Regions from separate parts of the Homo sapiens genome. Here all the other regions are linked to region 2. Evidence: fine-mapped expression QTL. A gene starts in region 2. Each other region holds a variant in brackets. All regions are shown on one strand. Distances are from middle to middle. Region 1 overlaps RBM27-POU4F3 (RBM27-POU4F3 readthrough). Region 2 holds the start of RBM27 (RNA binding motif protein 27). Region 3 overlaps LARS1 (leucyl-tRNA synthetase 1).

Region 1 (8,188 bases), 83 kb after region 2:
GTAATCTAGAGAGGATTCAAAGTATATAGGAGAATGTGTGTAGATTACATGCTAATACTACACTATTTTATGTAAATGACTTGAGCATTCATGGATTTTGGTATTCACAGAGAGTCCTGGAACCAGTCCCCCAGAAACACCAAGTGATGACTGTATGTGGAATTGCTGAGTGAACCCCATCAGTTTTAGATTCTTACCAGTTTAGAATCAGTTTGAGATTCTCACCATTTGTGTATGAGAATTCCTAACTTGGTAGCGTCATAATATATCTTTATTCTAATTGCTAATTTATTTGATTTGTTGTAAGTTAGATAGTAGAAATTATTTGTTCTTAATTTCAGACTCTGTATACATTTCTTATTCTTCCTTTAATAATGTATATGCAATACATTTAATGCCTTAATATTCCTTTTGGAGGACAGACCTCTTATCCTCTTTGGAGAGCAACACAGTTATTACAGATTTAAAAATCTTTATTACTTTTTCTGTTTATAAAAGTAATATGTTTTTATTTAGAAATTCAAATAATAAAGAAATGAACAAAACAAGCAGGGAAAGCCTCTCTATAATTGGGCTGTGTGTTAAAGGATAGAGTAAAGGGTAAAGGATCTCTGTTACGTACATTACCTAATTTTTAAAAGATGGTAAATATAGACCAGGTGCTGTGGCTCGTGCCTGTAATTCCAACACTTTGGGAGGCTAAGGTGGGAGAATTCCTCGAGCCCAAGAGTTTGAGACCAGCCTGGGCAACATCGGGAGACCCCGTCTATAAAAATAAAAAAATTAGCCAGGTGAGGTGGTGCATGCCTGTGGTCTCAGCTCCTTGGGAAGCTGAAGTGGGAGGATCACTTGGACCCAGGGAGTCGAGGCTGCAGTGAGTGTGATCTTCCCACTGCACATTCCAGCCTGGGAATCAGAGCAAGACCCTGTCTCAAAAAGAAAAAAAAAAGGTACATATCTATATTTGGTAGGGCTATTTTGATACATCAGTTTGGTATGTCCCATGAGTCATAATGTTTGGTGTTAGGTTATGAGCATTTAGACCCTTCAAGGAATGGTGGGAATTTTTCCCTTAGAACACAGGACGATGTCTGTGCAGGCAGTAATGGATTTATGAGTCTGCTCTAATGTACATTCTCACCATGCTATGCTCCAAGTGTTTTATGGAAACATTTGGCAAATGCTTCAGGAGGTTTAGCAATGATTTTGCTAGATAGACTAGAATGAAAGCCCAAATAAAAAAGAATCTCTTCTATTATGTTTTTTAGAACCCCCAGTTCTATAAATGAGGACCTTTGATAGGAAAGCTATAGGGATGGCTAAACTTCTACTTTTCTGAAACTTTGGATCCCTAGTCCCTTGTCTGTGTTGCTTTGTCTTTAAAATTTGCTTTCCCCTATTGGAATTTGCTGGGGAGAAAAAAATGTTTAAAAATTAGTACCAAGTAACATTTGAAATGGAGCAGTTTTATGAGTTAGGATAGTATTAGGCATTTGTTTAATGTTTATTGAATGCATAGATGAGCTGGGAGGTGCTTATTAGTGTATAGCGTTTCAGAAGTGGAAATAAGAAGAACTTTATCCAACATAGGTGGGGCTGTGAGAGATGCAGTGAGATGAATAAGCAGATGATTCACCTTTTTTCTAAGGTTTGAGTCTATATATGTAGATATCAAAGCCAAAGGTCAATACCTGTATTAAGAATATTTCTTGTCCTCATCATGACTTTTGTAAGTAGAGCAACTCTACTTAGAAAAAAAATTATTTCTTCAACCAAGACAGATGCTAACATTTACCTGACACAGATATAAACCATGGGTTATCCTAGGCAAACCAGAACATATAGTTGCTCTAATTAAAAGGGACTTTATTTTTTTTAGCTCTCATTGGAGATTGTAGATCCACCTTAACAGATTTCTCTCCTGCCCTATGTTATACTTTTTAAATAACACAGAATTTGCAGAAATCATTAGTAAATTTGAGTGCAAACTTGTATGTTCTTCTAATATATATTTTAGACCGCAAACCAAGGGCCAAAATTTAAAGACCGTCGGCTACAGATATCATGGCACAAGCCCAAGGTACCATCTATATCCACTGAGACTGAAGAAGAAGAAGTCAAGGAGGAGGTAAATTTAGTGGTTGGAAATAAGAGTTGAATTAGATCACTTCTCAATTATGTATTTTTTATGATATTAAATAGTATAAATTAAAAAATGCTGGGTTTTTCTTTCATGCATGCAAATTAAGACCCGTTTAGATGTTTATTAGAGAATTAAAACAGGTCTAGAGATATAAGAAGCTGTGTTAGGGGTTATTTTCTTCTGATATAGGAAAGACTGTTCTTTTTTGTTTACATTTATATTGGATTTATTTGAGCTCTAGAAATTTTTATTCTGATGAATAAAGTCAGAGATTACATAAATGAATTAAACTTTAATTGGTTGGTTTCACTTTTTGTTTATTCAAGTTCCATAGTAATAGATTTGAGTTTCTTATTTTCCTTCTGTGTACAATTGGTTAAAATCAGAGTGTGCAGAAGTTGAACATAGAGGAGAGAATTGGAAAACTAAAGACCTAAATAATAAAAGTACTGAATAATCAGCTTCTTAAAATATATGAGAATTTATTTTGCTTTTTTACTCCTGTTGTTTATCATTAGTTTATTTAGTGAACACTTAGGCTATATTGCGAGGTTTTCCTGATTTATATGACAATCTTGGTTTTAAAAGATACCTAGCTAGCATTTATAGTTTGATCAAGTGTCTTCTCACTATATAGGTAATTTTACACAGCAAAAGCAGAAATGTTCCCTAGATTAAAAGAAAAACAGAAGTCATGGTATTTGGGTAGTGTTTGCAGATACATCTACTTTGTCTAAGATTTTAGATTTTTATATAAGATTTGGAATATCAGTGTCATGGGGAAGCTAGTATATTCACCTCTCACAAACAATTGGATGGATATAAAAACAAAGATTTAGGTGTTTGGTCATTTATTTTCCTAATTTTTTATAGAATAAAATTAATTTTAATTTATCAGAAATGTATCTCATAGTCTTTTTTAAATTTTCTGTACTAAATGTCCACATTATTTTCCTGATGATATTAGAGTAGAAATCTCCTATTAAAAGTAGCAAAATTAGCAGGGGAGAAGAATTCATATTCATTTACAAAAATATTTTGGGCTTTTTTTTTTTTTTGCCCTGAAAGATACTCTTGCATGCATCCCTTATGAAATCTAGCCTGGGCTTTGTATACTAGCCTGTTTGTCCTTTGGCCTAAAAAGTATTTTACTTACCATTCTTGTGCCACTAAGCAGATTTTAACCTCTCTTTCTTCAGGAAACAGAAACCTCAGATTTGTTTTTGCCTGATGATGACGATGAAGATGAAGATGAATATGAGTCTCGCTCATGGCGAAGATGAAATCTGATGCTAGCTGTATAATTTTTAGGAATATTGTTTAGAAGAACAACTTTTAAAAATTATTTAAAAGAAGTCAATGAGCCAAAAAAAATTTTTTTATTTTTCTTTTCAACACAGTAGGTTCAAGAACAGCAAGTTTGCTATTTAAACACATCTCATAACTGTACATGATATTAAAGCACCAAAGGCCTAGTGACTTTTACACAGTTGTGAAGATCCACAGCAATGACATGGATAATCTCTAGAGCCTTATTTTCCACAC[C/T]ACCTTTTTTTTGTTGCTGTTGGTGTTGGATTATGATGTAAATGACAGGGTGTTCAGAAATTTTATTTTGGATTATAATCTACTGATAAAATTTAATTAAATGTCAAAATCACCTGTAATCTTTTAACTCTCAGTTGTTATGGATGGGTCATCAGACAGTAGGAAATATTTGTAATTAAAATACCCTTTTGCTTTCAAGAGTGGTCTTGGAAGAAAAATATGTTTATTTTAATTTTAATTTTTTTTTTTTTTTACTTTGGAGGAGCCCAATTTGTATTCAGTCTAAATTTGTTTTTCATGGTTTTTATGTGTGGTAGTACTAGTTCAGTGAAAATCACAACAAACTGTGTGTTCTTAAATGCTACAGCAATGGTAGCTAGCTCTATAGTATTTCCATTCTCTTGTCATATGAACTCCTGGACTTTTCCTGCTACTGATTCTTAGTTTGCTTTGATATTTAGTGAGCGCTGGTTCGGCTGGTCTTTTTAAAAATTTTTATAACTCAGAATGTAAAAGGCTTTCACCTATTGCCCCTTTCTCGTCCCCCTTTTCTTCCTCTTGCCTTTCTATTAATAGGCCTGACTTAGTCATCATTGATATAAGTGGTTCATTTGGGCAACCGCAGGCAGTCTCCAATAAAAGGTTCAAACCAGCACCTGGATAAATAAGTGATGTTTTGATGAGAATGATGGAAGGATTTTGGGGAGAAGAGAATCACCAGCTTTATTTTTTCCCTCTTTTGAAGCTTCAGTTCAGTATAGTTACACAGAAGGGTTTAAAAATGTCTGAAATTCTTTTCCTAAATTTAAACCATGATGGTGAGGTGACTGGGGGGTGGGGGGTGGAGGTGGGAGGGGGTTGAGGGCTGAGTATGCTAGTAATAAATGGGAGTCATATATGACTTTGTTCAGATGACCTTATTTTTTCATAATTTTGTAGCTTGTTGCTATCCATGAACATACGCATCCCTCAGTAGACAGTTTCCTTTACTGTGTGCATTTTTACTGTACACTGTATAGAGTAGAGTATCTGTTAAGTAAAATATATATGTAAATTTATGTCTTCGTGTTCTGAATGTTAGATGGAAAAGCAGAGGAGCAACACTACACTGTACTGACCCCTGGGAAAATAAAATGATTAATGTACCTAGGCTGTCACTTTTTCAAGGATATACACATCTGTGTTTTTATATATGTGTGGTATGAAAATTTGAAACCTCCTGTTGTCTCCAAAAGGGTCTTGGTGACCACTATATCAAGGATTTTGTTTGCTGAGGTAAAGACAATTTCTCAATATAGAAACTATTCACTAAGAACTTAAAACCATCAGGATTCTAGATTTACTTAGCTATAAGAAGTTAAATCCCACGTTCTGATAATCTTTATTCTTCTACATGTTTTCCTGGAATGATGTGTCAAACCAGGGTCATTTTTAAGTTCATATAATTTTCTTTCATAATAATGAGGACTTCCTTTTTCTAGGTTATTGTTATATTTCTAGTAACACTGAAGGTAAAATAAGCTTATAAAAGAAGGAAAACATCAGAATGGTGTATCTAGAATACACAATCTTGCTCCTTACTCCTCCATCATCTCTAATGAAATTTTTCTTGATGTCTGTGGCTCAGTCAGTATATATTTTGAAAGATTCATTGTGGTGAATATTTTGAGTCCTGACAGTTTAAACGTGATAGAGGGAACAAAGGATTTATATATTTTTTGTACAAAGTTTTTTCTTAAACTGTATAATTTTGTAAATAATTTGTTTGGGTTTTTTTTTTGTGTACTAAAACTACCAGCGTATAGATTTCAATAAGAATTGTTGTATTTTTGTATTTGGAAACTGAAAATTACAGTAAATAAATGGAACTCTAAGAAAAATTTCAGTAGACAGTTCAACAGAATGAGATTCCTTTTCATATGATTTTTTTGACCTCAAAATGGACATCTTATTTCACTCTCAGTAAAAAGTTGAAAATTTGACTTTTTAGTATTGGGGGCAGAAGATAGAAGTGTGTTAAAGTGAAAAACAGTTTTTTCAGTAAGGTTTGAGGCCCTTTCTATAAGTTTTCAGTACACCTTAAACAGGACTAAAAATACTTTAAAAGTGTGCTTTCAAAGAATTTTAAAACATGTTTGACTCAAAGATGAATTTGAAGTGAGTTAATTATAATACTGGAAAACTTCAGGTTAGCATAAAATAGTTTATATATATCCCCTGCCCCCTTTGGGATTTACTTCCACCATCAAATCTTCAACTGTTAGAATTTCACTTAAAAGTGAATAACTGCCATACATGTTTTCTTGGCATCTTCATTTACAGAAATAACATACAGCATCTAAAGCAAGTTCTGTCCCTCTTAATGTGTATGACATCTTTTTAAGTAGCTGATCAGCAATAATAGCCACCAGTTGACTAGGTCAGCCTGATATACTAGTGGATCACTGTCCAAGATAAAAAGGTAACCCCAAGTATTGCAAAATTTCCCTCAATTTCTTTATGTAACATTGAAGAAATGTTGTTACCAGCTAAGATGATAAATTGGAAAACAGTCTTGTTAAGGTGAAAGGGGTCCTTGGTGATGGATCATTATTTCAAAAAAGAAAAAAATCATGTGAAAAGGAATAGTGGTTCCTCTTGATGTATAGTATGCCTGTATTATAGTTTTTACAAAATTGTGAACTTGTGTAATAGTATAATAGGAGATATTGTTGAATTTCTAACTGTTTATACATTTAAATTCATATATGTAATGTTTGTTTTATCAATTACAATCTGAATTTCTAAGAAGCATGTTGACTTTTGCAATAAAGATGCAATATGGAATGGTTCACAATTGGAAAAAAAAAAGAAAAAAGATGAAAGTATTACAAATTTAAAAGAATTTGGAAAATTTATGAACCATTCCAAAAATTATAACAATCACCAAAAGAGCTGTAATTCTGGCTTGTTCTGGAAAGAAAGAAAATGTGTGTGTATGCTTGCTTGTGAGAGTGAGTGAGTAGTGGCTATGTATGTGTGTTTTATGTTGTGTTCATAAACATGAGAGAACATCACTCAATATGAAGTTGGGTTCGAAGTCACTGGCTATTAAATATTAAGTAGGATAACTTTCTCAACAGAGTAGCCTGGAGAATGAAAGAGAAGGTATTAAAATGCTACTTGTAAGTAACCTTTGATAGCCACATTATTTTGTTCCTGGATGGTTCTTGGTATCCCAGATAAAAAAGCACAAAACAGTTTCTTGAAAGCAATTATTTTAATGTTGTCTTGAGGATATTCATTATGCCTGCCATCAGTAGGAGGGACATTTTCCTTAAGTAGAATAGGGAGAAGGGAAAAAACACCTAGAAGAGATGATTTAAACATAAATCAGTTCTGAATGTGACAAAGATTTGTAAGGACAAACGGGAAGATAGTGATGTTATGCACTAAGGACTGGGTGGTGATGAGAAAGAGAAGGGAAGTGTATCACCTGGTTTTCCCATTTTAAAAAATGCTATTATAAAATTCCCCCTCCAATGATTATGCATTGTTTAAGAAGGAACATTCTTTGAATTTCAGCTTATACAAGAAAATACTCAAAGAATGAGAGTAAAGTTATTTTCATTCCTTTCAAATAAAATTTATTTTATGTATTATGTAAATAGCAAATAAGCTGTTTGTCACCATTTGCTTTGAGTAGATCATAATTAATCCTAAATATATTTACAATAAACATTAGTTCTGGGACTTTTTTGGAGGGAGCAGGCAAATTCTGAACATAGTTATATCTATTGAACAAATCAAATGTTTTACTAAGATGGAGCTCTCATTAACAGAAATTAATGATTTTATGTGATATTTTTACTGATTTTGAAGTAAATTGTGCTAAAGCCAAGGATAAATTTTGAATAAGCCCCAGCATACAGTCAAATCTGGATCTAGATATGTTACCGTAAACACAGAATTGTGTTTATCAACATGTGGGGATATTGGATGATAGGGTTGCTTTAGACTAAATGGACCAACATTACCTTGCTGTGCAGAGCTGCTCATTTTATGTTCATTTTTAGTCTGAAAGACCTAACTTGAGAGACCAACCAAAATTGACCCAGAAAAGAAAAAAGAAAAGGCAATCTACTGCTACTGCTTGTATTATGAATCACCTTCATTTATGCTAAATTGGTTTTATTGCCAAGATCTCTCCTTTCAACAGGATCATCTACCATTTGGCCTCTTCCCTGTTCTCCAGTTGACCTTAGGTTAACTAAACCATTTCAACATTCTAAGATAGGCAATTTGATATGGGGTGAAATCAAGGGCAGAATAGTGTTGGATGATTGTGAGTTATTTGTGTTTCCATCTACTCTTAGGCTTCTGCAAGCATTTCTTTTTGTGGTGGTGGTGGTGGTAGTGGTGTTCGTTAACATAAGCACGATTAACATTGCTGTTACTTTTTCTTTGCAATTGTATTAAATTATTTTTTTGTGAAAGAGCAGCAAGGAAAGAAGACCGCTT
Region 2 (8,188 bases):
CAATAGCTACCAAGAAAATGGCAATGGGCTAGTCAAAGCAAAAGCAGACTGGTCAGCAGCAGAGGTCATGGCAACAGTTTTTTTGGGATGCTCAAGGCATTTTGCTCGAGGGCTAAAGAACGATAACATATGCTTATTATGAGAGTGTTTTGAGAAAATTAGCTGAAGCTTCAGCAGAACAACATCTGTGAAAGTTTCACCAGAGATTCCTTCTCCATCTTGGCAATGCTCCTGCTCATTAATCTAATAGCCGGGTGCGGTGGCTCACGGCTGTATTCCCAGCACTTTGGGAGGCCGAGGAGGGTGGATCATGAGGTCAGGAGATGGAGATCATCCCAGCTAAAATGGTGAAACCCCGTCTCTACTAAAAATACAAAAAATTAGCTGGGCATGGTGGTGGGTGCCTGTAGTCCCAGCTACTTGGGAGGCTGAGGCAGGAGAATGGCGTGAACCTGGGAGGCGGAGTTTGCAGTGAGCCAACGTTGCACCACTGCACTCCAACCTGGGCGACAGAGCAAGACTGTCTCAAAAAAAAAAAAAAAAAATCTGGTCAAACAAGGGCAATTTTGCAAAAGTTTTGATGGGAAATCATTAGGCAGCTACCCTGCAGTCCTAATTTGGCTCCTTCTGCCTTCTTTTTGTTTCCTAATGTTTAAAAAATATGTAAAGGGTCCCATTTTTCTTCAGTTCATAATGTAAAAAAGACTGCATTGACATGGCTAAATTCCCAGGACTCTCAGTTCTTTAGGGATGAACTAAATGCCCAGTATCATTTGTGTGGTATCACTTGTATGTTCTCAATGTGCCTGGAACTTGATAAAGCTTATGTTGAGAAATAAAGTTTGTGGTTTTTATTTTTCTTTTAATTGCACTTTTCCATGAACTTTTTGAGGTCCCTTCTGTGCATATGTAAGTTTGGTTCTATTTTTCTTTTTTTACCCAGCCATCAACTTGACTTTATAGGTAAGTTTAGTTCTATTCAGTTTACCACCCTGTAGTTCCTGTATCCACCATCACAGTCAAAAATCAAAACAGTTCCAACACCAAAAGTGTCCCTCATGTTGTACTTTTATAACCACACCCACTCTCCCTTGGTTGGGAAGGGGTCTCAGTTGTCTCAGTTCCTCTCAACGTGGGCCTCTCCACAGGGCTGCTAGAATGTCTTGAAACATGATGACTAGCTTTCCCCTGAACAAGAGATCCAAGGTGGGAGCTAGGGTTTTTTTTTGTTTGTTTGTTGTTGTTGTTTTTGTTGTTGTTCTTGTTGTTGTTTTTTGGCAGAGTCTCACTCTGTCACCCAGGCTGGAGTGCAGTGGCTTGATCTCAGTTTACTGCAACCTCTGCTTCGCAGGTTAAAGCAATTCTCGTGCCTCAGTCTCTCAAGTAGCTGAGATTACAGGCATGTGCCACCACACCCAGCTAACTTCTGTAGCTGTTCGAAGTGAAGGGAAAATGTGGATAAACTTTAAAAAAGGAGGAGGAAGAGGAGAGAGAAAAGAAGAGGCAAGAGTTGCAAGTGAGAAAGCTCTTGGCTTGCTGTCAGAACCTCTGGATGCTACTTCTACTCCATAGAGGTGTAATTCTGGGTAAACCACTTGCCTCTCTGGACCTTTTCTTTCATTTGCAAAGTTATGAGGAGGGGGTTAGTGAGGGAGGTTCATTACATTATTTTTAAGTGCACCTCTGCTTTTACTACTTTATGTAAGGGGTTTACAAACTGTGGCCAGCAAGCTAAACCCTGCTGGCATCTTCTTTGTACACCTGTGAGGTTACAATGGCCTTTACATTTTTATTTGTATTAATTAATTAATTAGAGACGGAGTCTTGCTCTGTTGCCCAGGTTGGAGGGCAGTGATACCATCTCAGCTCACTGCAACCTCCACCTCCCCAGTTCAATCGATTCTCCTGCCTCAGTGTCTGGAGTAGCTGGGATTACAGGCGTGTGCCACCACAGCCAGCTAATTTTTTTTTTATTTTGAGACAGAGTCTTGCTCTGTCGCTGAGGCTGGAGTGCAGTGGCATGATCTCGGCTCACTGTAGCCTCCGCCTCCTGGGCTCAAGTGATTCTCCTGCCTCAGTCTCCTGAGTAGCTGGGACTACAAACACGCGCCACCACGCCCAGCTAATTTTTGTATTTTTAGTAGAGACGAGGTTTCACCATGTTGGCCAGGCTGGTCTCGATCTCCTGACCTCATGATCCGCCCACCTCGGCCTCCCAAAGCCCTGGGAATACAGGCATGAGCCACTGCGCCTGGCCCACGCCCGTCCCATGCCCGGTTAATTTTTGTATCTTTAGTAGAGACGGGGTTTCACCATGTTGGCCAAGCTTGTCTGGAACTCCTGACCTCAGGTGATCCACCCGTCTGGGCCTCCCAAAGTGCTGGGATTACAGGCATGAGTCACCGTGCCAAGCCCCCCCTTTTTTTTTTGAGATGGAGTTTCTTTGGCTCTTGTCACGATCTTGGCTCACTGCAACCTCTGCCTCCTGGGTTCAAGCGATTCCCCTGCCTCAGTCTCCCGAGTACCTGGGATTGCAGGCGTGTGCCACCATGCCTGGCAAATTTTGTATTTTTAGTAGAGACTGGTTTCACCATGTTGGTCAGGCTGGTCTGGAACTCCTGACCTCAGGTGATCCACCCGCCTTGGCCTCCCAAAATGCTGGGATTACAGGTGTGAGGCACCGCGCCCAGCCTGGCCTACATTTTTAAATGGAGAAAAAAATGAAAAGATAATATTTCATGGTATGTGAAAATTATATAAATTTAAAATTTTATATAATTTTAATAAATGTTTGTAATACAGCCACAATCATTCCATTTACATATTGTCCCTGGTTAATTTTAAGCCAAGACATTGTATGACGAGTAGTTGCCATAGATACCTCAAGGCTCACAAAACCAAAATATTTAGTATCTGATCCTTTGCAGAAGTTTGCCTATACCTGTTCTATGTATATATAGGATGTCTGTTTATTTGAGGTTGATCCATTTCTTTTATATGAGGTGCGTGCTCATTAGGTATTTTTCAAAATGTTATTACAATGCATAACCCCATAAACTGTTCATCATCTTAAGAGGAGAAGCTCTGTTTTGCTCAGCATTGGACTCCTAGTGCCTTACTCAGTGCTGGCAATTGCAGGGACTCAGTATATGTTATTGGGTAAACATTTTAACATCAGTGCTAAATCAGTGATTTCAAAACTCCAGAAAGAATTTCTCACCTACTAGAAAGTAAGTTGACTATTTCAGTAGTTTCTAATTTGTCTTAAAAATTTTTTTGTAATCCTTCTTTGCTGATTAAAATTCTCCCTTCCCGTCCCCCAACCACTGAATTTTAGATATACAATGAAAAGATAATTAAAAACAAACTATTGGAGTCATTTTTCTTCCTAAATAAAGCAACATTTATTAATAGTACTAGCAAAATTGAAATGGCCTCAGCCTTTTACATCCGTGCGCCACGTTTTAAAAATGACGATTACTGGATTCCAAGGCATGGTTGTCAGAAACATTCTGCGTAATTAAAGCAGAGCAGCAGAAAATACAAACGTGAGTGCCAATCAACATGAGTGTGTAAAGAAAAAAAGTAAAATTTTGCATTCTGTGCAATGTGTCGAACGTGAACGTATTGCACGTTGTGTTGCAGATTTACTACAGCTGAGTCATTTCGGGACACGAGTGTGTGTTTCCAAGAAAAACGAGAGGAAGGAACCAGGCTGAGGGGCTCGCCGGGTTCCCCCAGGCACTCCCAGCAGCAGACACCGGTATTCCGCGGCGGGCGGCGGCGTGGTCAAAAAAAGGCGCCGCTGCCCCTTTAAGAGGCAAAGCACCTTTTCCAAGATACCATCTTGCACCAGGAGTTCACTTAAGCTCTCCACCTACCTTGCTATATCTCTCCTCCCTGACTGGGTACCGCCTGCCGGCGGGGCGAGCGAGCCTTTTCATTGGTCTTGCCCTCAGGGCCCCCTCTCTCTTACTGGTTCTCAGGCCTGCCACTCGGCACTGTCTCCCGCCCACCTCAGCCTTCGGGCTAGGTTGAGTGAGGGCTCTTGGGTTAGTTCCTGTTAGGCCCCGGCCGGGGGAGTAGGTTGAAGTCTCCTAAGATGCCCGGTGGGCTGGGGCACCGGGAGCTGTGAAGGGAACGTGAGGGGGCGGCGTAGTGGAGACCCACGGCAGGCCTGAAGAAGAGCGGCGGCCGAGCCCGCCTTCCCTGCACCATGCTCATAGAGGATGTGGATGCCCTCAAGTCCTGGCTGGCCAAGTTACTGGAGCCGATGTGAGTGAGCCGGGCTGGGCCGGGGCCGGCGAACGTGGGCGTTGGGGGCTCGCGGGGGCGTGGGGGAGGGGAGGTGGCGTGGGGGGCGGCGCTGAGGGGCCGCGGCCGGGAGGTCCCGGCGACGCCTTCCCTGTAGTACTATCACCATTGTGGTGGGGGTGAGGGTGGGAGAGGAGCGCTGGGGACGGAGAGGCGCCGTGAATATGGGGACTGGGGGGGCAGGCAAGGACAGCGAAGGCTTTTCAAACGCAAATATCGGGGTGCTGGAAGGGGTAGCAGGGGCCGTGAGGGAATTTAAAACATTGCTGTTTGAGAACTGAGAGAGAGGTAACGGGGCTCTTGAGGGATTTTTAAAATGTGAATATTGAGATGTCGAAGGGAATAGCAGAATATCAAGGGTTTGATAAACATTATTATTCCGGGACTGAAAGGTCTAGAAGCAAAATATCGAGGGCATTTTCGAAATATGAGGGCAGAAGCGGATAGCAGGGACATTGAAACTGTATAGCGATTATTGGTAAGTTCTGAGGGATCAAGAATATTGAAGGATTTGAAAAATACTATGGAGTAGATGAAAAGGATGTGTGGGCATTGAAGGGTTTTAGAAATTATTGGGGAGGTGATAAGTGTGATAGCAAGGATATTAAGGGATTTTAAAGTATTATTGAGGGCTTGATAGTGCTAGGGGAACTGATGACTTTTAGATACATAGAGGTTGGAAAAAAGAGGTTTCTGTAAGTTTAGTTGAAGGTTGAAAGGGCTACACTGGTATGCAGCATTAATTGGTGGAGGAGTATACCTAACAGTATGTAGGGATTTTTAGATACAGGTGGTGTTGGAGGAATAAAAGGAGCGGTAGAAAGAATAAGAGATTTGTAAGTATTCTTGTGCCATTGAGAGGACAGTTTTGTAAATGTTTTTGTAAGATTGAGAGGACACCTGAAGATAATTGGGGTGTAGTATGAGGGACCGAAAAGAATGAGAGACCTGTCTTTTAAAAATATTTTGGGTGGTGTTAGTAGAAATGTTATTGGGAGGCTTGAAAGAGGTAACAGATGTATCAACATTTTGTTTTATAACCTTTTTTTTTTGAAACAATGTCTCGCTGTGTCTCCCAGGCTGGAGTGCAGTGGCTGGATTTCGGCTCACTGCAACCTCCGCCTCCCGGGTTCAAGCGATTCTCCTGCCTCAGCCTCCCGAGTAGCTGGAACTACCGGCGCGCGCCACCACGCCCAGCTAATTTTTGTATTTTTAGTAGAGATGGGGTTTCGCCTTGTTGGCGAGGCTGGTCTCGAACTCCTGACTTCAGGTGATCCGCTCGCCTTGGCCTCCCAAAGTGCTGGGATTACAGGCGTGCGCCACTGGACCCGGCCATGTTTGATAACCATTTTAAAGGGTAGAGTTGTGGAGTGCTTATTTGGGGGAATGGGGTATGGCTAGTTACTGGAAGGGAAAGAATCATGTTTTGCCTCCTCCTTGCTTCTGCTTTATTATTCTCTTATTGAAGGTTAGAGCTTTCTGCTTGAAAGAAAGGGGTAGAAGAAGAGATGGGCAGGCTTTGATTCATTAGGTCAGATTGCATTAGTGGAAAATTTGAGTGTTTTTCGGAGGTGAAAATAGGGAGTAGTTTGGGAGGTGTGGAGGCATGGTAAAGGAACTTCTGGGGGACAGTGTCAAGCTACTTCCCTGTTGATCTCTTTCAGTGAAAATGACTGAACACACTTGAAGGTTTTGTAGAAGAATATAGGTCTCTTGAATAGGGGTTTTTTTAACTCCTACAATAAAGTTTTGGGCACAAAGATGGAAATGGTTTGTGGTGAAGGTGGGAAATAAGATGGATGTAATGAAATTGACCATATATGGGAAAAGGTTGAAAAAAGAAAAATATCTGTATGTTTAAAGTATTCTTCATGTGGCTGGGCACGGTGGTTCACGCCTGTAATCCCGACACTTTGGGGGGCCTAGGCGGGCGGATCATGAGGTCAGGAGTTCAAGACCAGCCTGGCCAATATGGTGAAACCCCGTCTCTACTGAAAGTATAAAAATTAACCGGCTGTGGTGGGGCGTGCTTGTAGTCCCAACTACTCGGGAGGCTGAGGCAGAAGAATCGCTTGAATCCCAGGAAGTGTAGGTTTCAGTGAGCCTAGATCAGGCCACTGCTCTCCAGCCTGGGCAACAGAGCCAGACTCCGTCTCAACAAAATAAAAATAAAAAAAGTGTTATTCATGTTATTTAAGATTAAAAAAGAAAAAATACATCTCTTTATTTTGTATTTCTGCTGCTCTGATGCCTTTAGAAAAAACAACCTACTTTCCAGACAAGTTTAGTTTTGTTGGTAGCTATCCTTTTAAGAAGAATTAAACATACATTTTATGTCTTGGATAGAAGGTAACAACTTTTAGCCTTATAGTTACTTGCTTTTTCTTTTTTTTAAAGCTCCCTAAGATGTTTTACTCTGAGTAGTGCTTTTCGTTTTTTGTTTTTTTTTTTTTCCCCTTAATGTTGAAGGTTAGTCTGGGTGGGAGCTTCTTCTTGCTTAGGCTTTTTTTTTTTTCCTTCTTTTTTTTAAAGCTACTTAGACTCATAAGTATGATCATTCTGTAATTTTCATGAGTAAAAATTATCTTTCAAAATGATTACTTGAGTTTAGTTTCTCCTTTTGAGTTATATATTCAACTTAAAGTTCACATGCTTATTTTTTTTAATTTTGTTGCTCATTTAGGGTAAAAAAAAAAAGGCTAAAATACTTTATTTGTTTGTTTATTTATTTATTGAGATGGAGTTTCGCTCTTGTTGTCCAGGCTGGAATGTGGTGGTGCAATCTCAGGTCACTGAAACCTCTGCCTCCTGGGTTCAAGCGATTCTCCTGCCCCAGCATCACGAGTAGCTGGGATTACAGGCACTTGCCACCATGCCCGGCTAATTTTTTGTATTTTTAGTAGAGACGGGGGTGTCACTGTGTTGGCCAGGTTGGTCTCCAGTTCTTGACCTCAGGTGATCCACCCACCTCGGCCTCCCAAAGTGCTGGGATTACAGGCATAAGCCTTTGTGCCTGGTCTAGAATACTTATTTTTAACTCACCTAAGTAACAGTTTTGAATGGAGATATTAATAATAAAAAAGTAAATGCAGATACCACATATATTTTTATTCTTAGTATGTCATCATGGGAGATTATTTTTTGTTTGTTTAGATATCCTAAAATGTAATAAATGATATGCTAAAGTGGGTTGTGTTTGTAAATTTACTTTTTTGCATATTCCAGATTCAAGAAAATTTTCATGGCAGATTGGCATGTTGCTACAACATAGCATTTCAGAGCAGTTGCTAGGCTTTGAGATAGTATAGTTGCACCGGCTAGGTTGGAATCAAACTATGACTGTGCACATGATTTTCTTTCTTTTTCTTTCTTTTTTTGAGGTGGAATCTCTCACTGTTGCCCAGGCTGGAGTGCAGTGGCACTCACTGCAACCTCTGCCTCCTGGGTTCAAGCGATTCTCCTGCTTTAGCCTCCCGAGTAGCTGGGATTACAGGCGCCCGCCACCATGCCCGGCTAATTTTTTGTATTTTTTAGTAGAGAGGGGGTTTCACTTTGTTGGCCAGGCTGGTCTTGAACTCCTGACCTTGTGATCCACCTGCTTGGCCTTCCAAAGTGCTGGGATTACAGGCATGAGCCACTGCGCCCAGCCTGTGTGCACATGATTTTCTATTACATTTTCTTATTTAGCTTAGTTTACAGTAAATTAAATTTATGAAAGCTTCCAATTCCCGGGGGATTTTTAAAATGTTACATCTTGTCCCTAGTGAAACATATGCATGTAACGGGAGATATTTCTTTTTTTTTTTTTTTTTTGAGACAGGGTCTCTGTCGCCCAGGCTGGAGTGCAGTGGCACGATCTTGGCTCACTGCAACC
Region 3 (8,188 bases), 65 kb before region 2:
GAAATATCTTGGAAAAGCTTCCTACATACTCAACATTTTTTTTTGAGACAGAGTTTCACTCTTGTTGCCTAAGCTGGAGTGCAATGCAATCTCAGCCCACTGCAACCTCCGCCTCCCGGGTTCAAGCGATTCTCCTGCCTCAGCCTCCCAAAGTAGCCTGGATTACAGGCACCTGCCACCACACCCAGCTAATTTTTTTTTTTTTTTTTGTATTTTTAGTTGAGACAGGATTTCACCATGTTGGCCAGGCTGGTCTTGAACTCCTGACCTCAGGTGATACACCCACCTCGGCCTCCCAAAGTGCTGGGATTACAGGCGTGAGCCACCGCGCTTGGCCCATACTCAACATCTCTACAAAACAAGTCTTGAATCTTAGCAATGATATTGAGTTCATTAAAGGAAGACTCAAACTAACTTCAGCTTGATTTGTTCCTGAACACATCATGTCAGCAATTCTTATATATTAAATATTATGTTGCTCATCCACAAAGGAAACATTAAGATTTTAAAATTTTGTTAAAAGCAAAACAGAAAGTAAAATTAAAACACCAATTTTAACGTGTCTTCTATAATCTGAGAACTGGACCCTACAGAACAGCAATAAGAAAAATGTTTACTCACCATCTGCTGAAAATTTGTCAATAGCTTGGGTCAAAGTGAGGAAGTTGCCTGTGGATTTTGACATCTGAAATAGAGAGTCAGTGATCAATCATTAATAACAGTAATATAAATAAACCAAATGAGCCAAATAAAATTAACTAGGTTGGCCATGACCAGATAAAAACAAAAAAGAATTCAAAATACGGAAAGGAAAAGATATTACACTAATTTTAGAGCGGTGAAAACTGAATTTCATCCGATAAAGTGCCTTGTTTGGGTTACTCAGCTATCAGTGACACAGCTAGGAGAGGACCTCCAGACTCACACTCAGTCCACTGTGATTTAGCCTATACTGTCTGGGTTAGACATGTGTAATGATTCCACTATAACTCTAGAACACCACCTGGTTACCTAAGAAAGAGCTTTACGGCAATTAGAATCATTCAGAAATGGAATGGACCAGCTCATGAGGTTGGAGTTATGATTTTAGGAACCCTCCTATCATTAGGGTCACAAAAATCGGTTGTTCAAGTTGTGCTCTGCCTTAGGGCAATGCATCGGAAGAGGCACCACTCACAGCCTAGCAATCTTTATCGCTTTAAAATTGTATGTCATTAGTTTAACTATGCTGATATCAGAAGGAAATGATGATTATATCAGTTTTCTATTATACTACATGGCAATACATATCTTGTTCTAATAAAATCAGGATAGTACAACAACTTTCAGACAGCCAAAGAAAATGTCATGTTCTAACAAGAATAATAAATGTATTGTTCTTCTTTGACTTACAAAGAAGAAATGAGTTCAATAATCAAAGGTTCCTTATTGAGCTAACAAAATCTATTAAAATCGCCTGTGCTTCTAAACAGCAGTTTTTCAGTCTAATATACAGATTACCTATTTTTTTTTTTTTTTTGAGATGGAGTCTTGCTCTGTTACCCAGGCTGGAGTGCAGTGGCGCAATCTTGGCTCAGTGCAACCTCCGCCTCCCTCGGTTCAAGGGATTCTCTTACCTCAACCTCCTGAGTAGCTGGGATTACAGGCGCGCACCATCATGCCCAGCTAATTTTTGTACTGTTAGTAGAGACGGGGTTTCACCATGTTGGTCAGGCTGGTCTCTAACTCCTGACCTCGTGATCTGCCCGCCCTGGCATCCCAAAGTGCTGCAATTAACGGGCGTGAGCCACCGCACCCGGCCACAGATTATCTTAAAGGAACATCTTTTATTACCTTTCAATATTAGGGCACAGGCTAAGTCTGATGTTACATAATGCAATTTACATCAGCTGCCATTTGTTTAAAGCTACAACTATTTTCTCCTTTTTCCCTTTTTTTGAGATGCAGTTTCACTCTTGTCGCGCAAGGCCTGAGTGCAATGGCACGTTCTCAAATCACTGTAACCTCTGCCTCTCGGGTTCAAGCGATTCTCCTGCCTCAGCCTGCAGCTGGGATTACAGGCGCCCACAACCAGGCCCAGCTAATTTTTTGTACTTTTAGTAGAGATGGAGTTTCACCACATCGGCCAGGCTGGTCTTGAACTCCTGACCTCAGGTGATCCACCCGCCTTGGCCTCCCAAAGTGCTGGGATTATAGGCGTGAGTCACCGCGCCCAGTCCCCTACAACTATTTTCATTATGACATATAGACACTTATGACAACTAATACAGTCATTGCTATTCTGTTGGTTACAGCAAAATTCACTGGTTGTAACAAATCTAATTTGTTACCATTTTTATTAATGAGGAATAAATAATTTTGTACTTTTTTTTTTAAGTCAAGTAGGGGTGCCCTTCTCTAATTTGCACAGAAGTATCATAGGGGCAAGTGAGGGGTCTGTCAAGTTTGCATAACCTCCTACTGAGGATATTGATTAATAAGATAAAGTACTATGCAGTCTGTTTTAAAAAAATCACCCATATTATTAATAGTAACAGTAGTGATAGTAACAGCAGAAGCATAGAGAGGACTACTATACTGCTTGGGAAGGAGCATTACGTGACATCTAAAAATCTTACAGACTCCAAAATTCTATCATTCTACTAATTTAGTGGCCAGTCACAGTATAAAACAAAAAGCACCGAGTCATTTTCTCAACTTACTAAGAAAAATAGCTCTTCCCATCATCTTGGATCCTATGGAGGCCTGCTGGGAGCAGGACTTCTAAAAGGAAATATGGCTGGAAGGCTGTGGTCCAAGGCCATTTTTGCTGGCTATGAGCAATGTCTCCAGAACACACAGCTCTTCTTAAAATTGAAGGTGTTAGCTGGGCATGGTGGCTCACATCTGCAATCCCAGCACTCTGGGAGGCTGAGGTGGGCGGATCATGAGGTCAGTTTGAGACCATCCTGGCCAACATAGTGAAACCCCGTCTCTACTAAAAATACAAAAAAATGAGCCGAGCATCATGGCAGGCACCTGTAGTCCTAGCTACTCAGGAAGCTGAGGCAGAATTGCTTGAATCCGGAAGGTGGAGGTTGCAGCGAGCCGAGATTACGTCATTGCATACCAGCCCAGGCAACAGGGCGAGACTCTATCTCAAAAAAAAAAAAAAAAAAGTGAAACTGTTTATGCTCAAGATGAAACAGAATTCTATGTGGGCAAGAGATGTGCTTATGTATACAAAGCAAAGAACGACCATGACTCCTGGCAGCAAACCAAACAAAACCAGAGTAATCTGGGGAAAGGTAACTCGGGCCCCATGGGAACAGTAGCATGGTTCATGCCAAATTCCTAAACAATCTTCCTGCTAAAGGTATTAGACACAGAATCTGAGTGATGCTATACCCCTCAAGGATTTAAACTAATGAAAAGTCAATAAATAAAAGTGGATTTGTTAAAAAGGAAAAAAAAAAAAAAAGAAATGGCTGGGTGCAGTGGCCCATGCCTGTAATCCCAGCACTTTGGGAAGCCGAGGCGGGTGGATCACTTGAGGTCAGGAGTTCCAGATCAGCCTGGCCAACATACTGAAACCCTGTCTCTACTAAAAACACAAAAAAGTAGCCGAGTGTGGTGACAGGCACCTGTAATCCTAGCTACTCAGGAGGCTGAGGCAGGAGAATCGCTTGAACCCAAGAGGTGGAAGTTTCAGCAAGCCCAAGATCGCATCACTGCATACCACCCTGGGCAACAGTATGAGACTCTGTCTCAAAAAAAAAAAAAAAGAAAGAAAAAGAAAAAAAAATTTGAAGGTGTTTATGCTCAAGATGAAACAGAATTCTATTTGGGCAAGAGATGTGCTATGTATACAAAGCAAAGAACCAGACGGTGACTCCTGGAGGCAAACCAAACAAAACCAGAGTAATCTGGGGAAAGGTAACTCAGGCCCACGGGAACAGTAGCATGGTTCATGCCAAATTCCTAAACAATCTTCCTGCTAAGGCTATTGGACACAGAATCGGAGTGATGCTGTACCCCTCAAGGATTTAAACTAACGAAAAGTCAATAAAAGTGGATTTGTGAAAAAAAAAAAAAAAAAAATGGCCGAGTGCAGTGGCTCATGCCTGTAATCGCAGCACTTTGGGAAGCTGAGGCAGGCGATCACTTGAGGTCAGGAGTTCGAGACCAGCCTGGCCAACATGGCGAAACCCCATCTCTACGGAAAAAAACAAAAATTAGCCGGGCATGGTGGCATGCGCCTGTAATCCCAGCTACTCAGGAGGCTGAGGCAAGAGAATCGCTTGAATCTGGGAGGTGGAGGTTGCAGTGAGCCAAGATCGTGTCACTGCACTCCAGCCTGGGCGAAAGAGTGAGATTCCATCACAACAAAAAAAAAAAAAAAGAAAAAGAAAAAAAAAGGAAAAGAAAACTCTTCTGGGTCACAATGCTAAGCTCTTTATGATTCCTGTCCCTGTCTCTGTCTCTCTTTTTCTCTCTTTACTTCAGTTGCAATTTGTGTCACCTTTGGCCACTCTAAATACAAATGTTACAAATAGGTAACTCTTCCCTATCTCTCTCTTCAATTAATACTATCTACTCCCCTTGCTCAATTTTAAAGATAAAAATTAATTTATAGGCCAGGCGCGGTGGCTCACACCTGTAATCCCAGCACTTTGGGAGGCTGAGGGCAGATCATGAGATCAGGAGACTGAGACCATCCTGGCGAACACGGTGAAATCCCGTCTCTACTAAAAATACAAAAAAAAATTAGCCAGGCGTGATGGCGGGTGCCTGTAGTCCCAGATACTCGAGAGGCTGAGGCAGGAGAATGGCGTGAACCCAGGGGGCGGAGCTTGCAGTGAGCCCATATGACGTCACTGCACTCCAGTGTGGGAGACAGCGAGACTCCGTCTCAAAAAAAAAAAAAAAAAAAAAAAAATTAATTTATGCCTCGTCCTAAATATGCTAATTAGAAGGTTTTTAACTCTGATTAATTCATATTATTTCTTATTTATTTACTAATTTTTTGGTAGAGATGGG[G/A]TCTCACTATATCGTCCAGGCTGGTCTTGAACTCCTGGCCTCAAGTGATCCTCCCACCTTGGCCTCCCAAAGCTCTGGAATTACAGGCATGAGGCACCACACCTGGACACATTATTTCTTACATACATTTAAAAAAAAGTGCAACAACCTAAATCTGAAAAGCCTTCCACAGAATTTTAAACTTTTAAGATGCAATAAGCCTTACCTTCTCAGAGTTCAGGAGGAGATGTCCATTTGCTCTCACAGCTGTAGGCCATTTGTCACTTCACAGATAAATGTTTAAAGATAGAAAATAAAAAAACAAAGATGATAGTTCTGGCTTAAAATTTTGAGGTAAAAGCTAATAGACTCATAAAGGCTTGCTAAGATAAAAGTGCAAGGATATACACTATAGTCCTTTTTGTAATGGGAAGTGAAAACAAATCAAAGGACTGGCTACATAAACTAGGATACAGGTATACAATGACGTAACTACTTAGGTGGGGCTACACGTATGGATATAAAAAGATCTTAAAAATATATGTGAAGGCTGGGCGCAGTGGCTCACGCCCGTAATCCCAGCACTTTGGGAGGCCAAGGCGGGTGGATCATGAGGCCAGGAGTTCAAGACCAGCCTGGCCAGGAGGGTGAAGCCCCATCTCTACTAAAAATACAAATATTAGCCGGGTGTGGTGGCTGGCGCCTGTGATCCCAGCTGCTGGGGAGGCTGAGGCAGACAGTTGCTTGAACCTGGGAGGTGGAGGTTGCGGTAAGCCAAGATCGCGCCACTGCACTCCAGCCTAGGCGACAAAGCAAGACTCCCTCTCAAAAAAATGTATATATACACACACACACATATAAATATACACACATATATATACACACACACACATATATATACACACACACATATATATACACATATATACACACATATACATGTGAAAACAAGACAGAACAGTGTAAACAATGTGGTATCTTTATATACATTAACAAATAGAGATATCAGATGCTGGTATATAAAATCACAAGAAACCAATAGCATCATGATGAATTTTGGGAAATAGAGTAGTGTGCAGGCAAGGATGAAAGTTCACTTTTAACTTTTTGCCTTTATGTATTCTTTAAATTTTCAAACTATGTACATGTCATTCATTCATTCTAGCAATGAGATCATATGGGGGGTTGAGAGCAAGAGTTGTGGAGCCAATCTCTCTGGGTTTGCATACTTGTACTATCTTCATTAGCTGGGTAGCTTTGGATTATGATTTCTTCCTCTTTATTCCTCAGTACACTTCCCTGCCTACAGACATGGATATTAAAGACCTTCCTCGAAAAGCTATAGTAAAAAGAGTTATTAAAAGTGATTTAAAAAGTACCTGGCATAAGCTCTTGATGTCAATACTTATTTGTAATTTTTAAAAACCTAACAAATGTGAAAAAAATTGGTGCAAAGGAATGAAGATTCAACTTATTGGTAAAGAATACTTCTGAGATACCAATTTGCCTACAAATGCATTGTAAACAATAGAGAAAAATACTAGGGCCAGGCACGGTGGCTCATACCTGTAATCCGAGTACTTTGGGAGGCCAAGACAGGAGGATCGCTTGAGTCCAGGAGTTTGAGACCAGCCTGGGCAACAAAGTGAGACCTCGTCTCTACAAAAAATAAACAAAATTAGCCAGGCAAGGTGACATGTGGCTAGTCCCAGCTACTCGGAAGTGTGAGGATCACGTGAGTCTGCGAAGTTGAGACTGCAGTGAGCCAAGATCATGCCATTGCACTCCAGCCTGAATGACAGAGTGAGACTCTGTAGAAAAATAAATAAATAAATTAGGTAAGTAATAACAGTGGATGACAAGTAGTGTAAGAACCACATTAAATTTATCTTATTCCTCTGGGCTGGGCACGGTGGCTCATGCCTGTAATCTCAGCACTTTGGGAGGCCAAGGCGGGTGGATCACCTGAGGTCAGGAGTTTGAGACCAGCCTGGCTAACACGGTTAAACCCCGTCTCTACTAAAAATACTAAATTAGCCAGGCGTAGTGGTGCACACCTGTAATCCCAGCTACTCGGGAGGCTGAGGCAGGAGAATCGCTTGAACCCAGGAGGCGGAGGTTGCAGTGAGCTGAGATCACACCATTGCATTCCAGCCTGGGCAACAAGAGCAAACCTCTGTCTCAAAAAAAATAAAAAATATTCGGGAGGCTGAGACAGGAGAATTGCTTGAACCTTAGAGGCAGAGGATGCAGCAAGCTGAGTTCGTGCCGCTGCACTCCAGCCTGGACTCTGTCTCAAAAAAAAAATTATTTTATTCCTCTACTCCAAAATCTTCGTTTTATTGTTGAAGGAAAAAATGTAATTTTATTCTAAATACAAGAAGGCATAAGAAATTGTCTTGGTTTTATGAAATAAAATTTGAACAGACTGAGAGGTTTGTTTCCTCAGCTACTTGAGGAACTAGAGGGAAAAGTAGACATGTCTGGGTAAAGAGGGAAAAGGACAGAAGGATTACTCTGAAGAAACAGACTCTAGTCAGAATGTTACCACAACTAATGCTGGAACCTTGGGGCGCTCTGCTCTAAAGAGAAGGTTCTTTCCAATTCTAATGGTCTAGAATTATTCCTGCATTTAACAGGTCAAATGAATTACTAGCAGACCAGCAATGCACCTGAGATATGACATGCTTTGGTGCCTGGGGTAGGTATGTGGATTTCTGGATGTAAGAGATAGGAGGTGGCCTTTCTGCTTTAGTACATATTTAAGATAAGAAAAAGAATGTAACTGGCAAATCTATACCATCCCCTCCACAATAATTTATTAGATATTTGAAGCCACAAGACACCCCTATTGACAATCAATAAATCTAGTCCACACCTATTTTATCATTCACCTTTGTTCCGGCCACATAGCCACATGATTATAAAGGTAATATGAAAGATGATTTGGAACAAGATCCTTGCCAGAGACGCGAAGATCAACAGGATACCAGAATTCAAACTCCTGCTTTAACTGATCTAATTTTTCCTTTGCAATCTGAGTCTTAGGAAATGGAGCCTCCTTGAAGAAAACATAATCCCAAACTTCCTTGGTCATCTGTTGCGGTCTGTATTAAAAATAAAACAAACTATTTTATATATATATATATGTAATTTCTTTGGAAGAATCAGTACCTGAATCGAAACATGG

The links.
Region 1: its variant is fine-mapped to the expression of RBM27 in whole blood (TOPMed, PIP above 0.99).
Region 3: its variant is fine-mapped to the expression of RBM27 in whole blood (TOPMed, PIP above 0.99).

What each region holds. Positions count from the first base shown.
Region 1 is chr5:146,282,605-146,290,792 of GRCh38, forward strand. The region is part of intron 18 of RBM27-POU4F3 (RBM27-POU4F3 readthrough); the gene reads left to right. It overlaps RBM27 (RNA binding motif protein 27), which reads left to right. Exons shown (of 21, transcript NM_018989.2): 20 at 2,018-2,128; 21 at 3,343-6,619. The coding sequence ends at 3,426. Among named protein-coding and RNA genes, the nearest start is that of POU4F3, 52 kb to the right of the region's middle. The variant C/T (reference allele first, on the strand shown) is at 3,689.
Region 2 is chr5:146,199,550-146,207,737 of GRCh38, forward strand. It overlaps RBM27 (RNA binding motif protein 27), which reads left to right and starts at 4,056. Exons shown (of 21, transcript NM_018989.2): 1 at 4,056-4,275. The coding sequence starts at 4,217. It overlaps RBM27-POU4F3 (RBM27-POU4F3 readthrough), which reads left to right and starts at 4,056. Exons shown (of 20, transcript NM_001414499.1): 1 at 4,056-4,275. The coding sequence starts at 4,217. RefSeq lists enhancers at 3,492-3,641, 4,112-4,271.
Region 3 is chr5:146,134,980-146,143,167 of GRCh38, forward strand. It overlaps LARS1 (leucyl-tRNA synthetase 1), which reads right to left. Exons shown (of 32, transcript NM_020117.11): 20 at 7,893-8,105; 21 at 5,225-5,282; 22 at 622-685. It also overlaps the pseudogene RPL35AP16 and the pseudogene RPL35AP17. Among named protein-coding and RNA genes, the nearest start is that of PLAC8L1, 33 kb to the left of the region's middle. The variant G/A (reference allele first, on the strand shown) is at 5,020.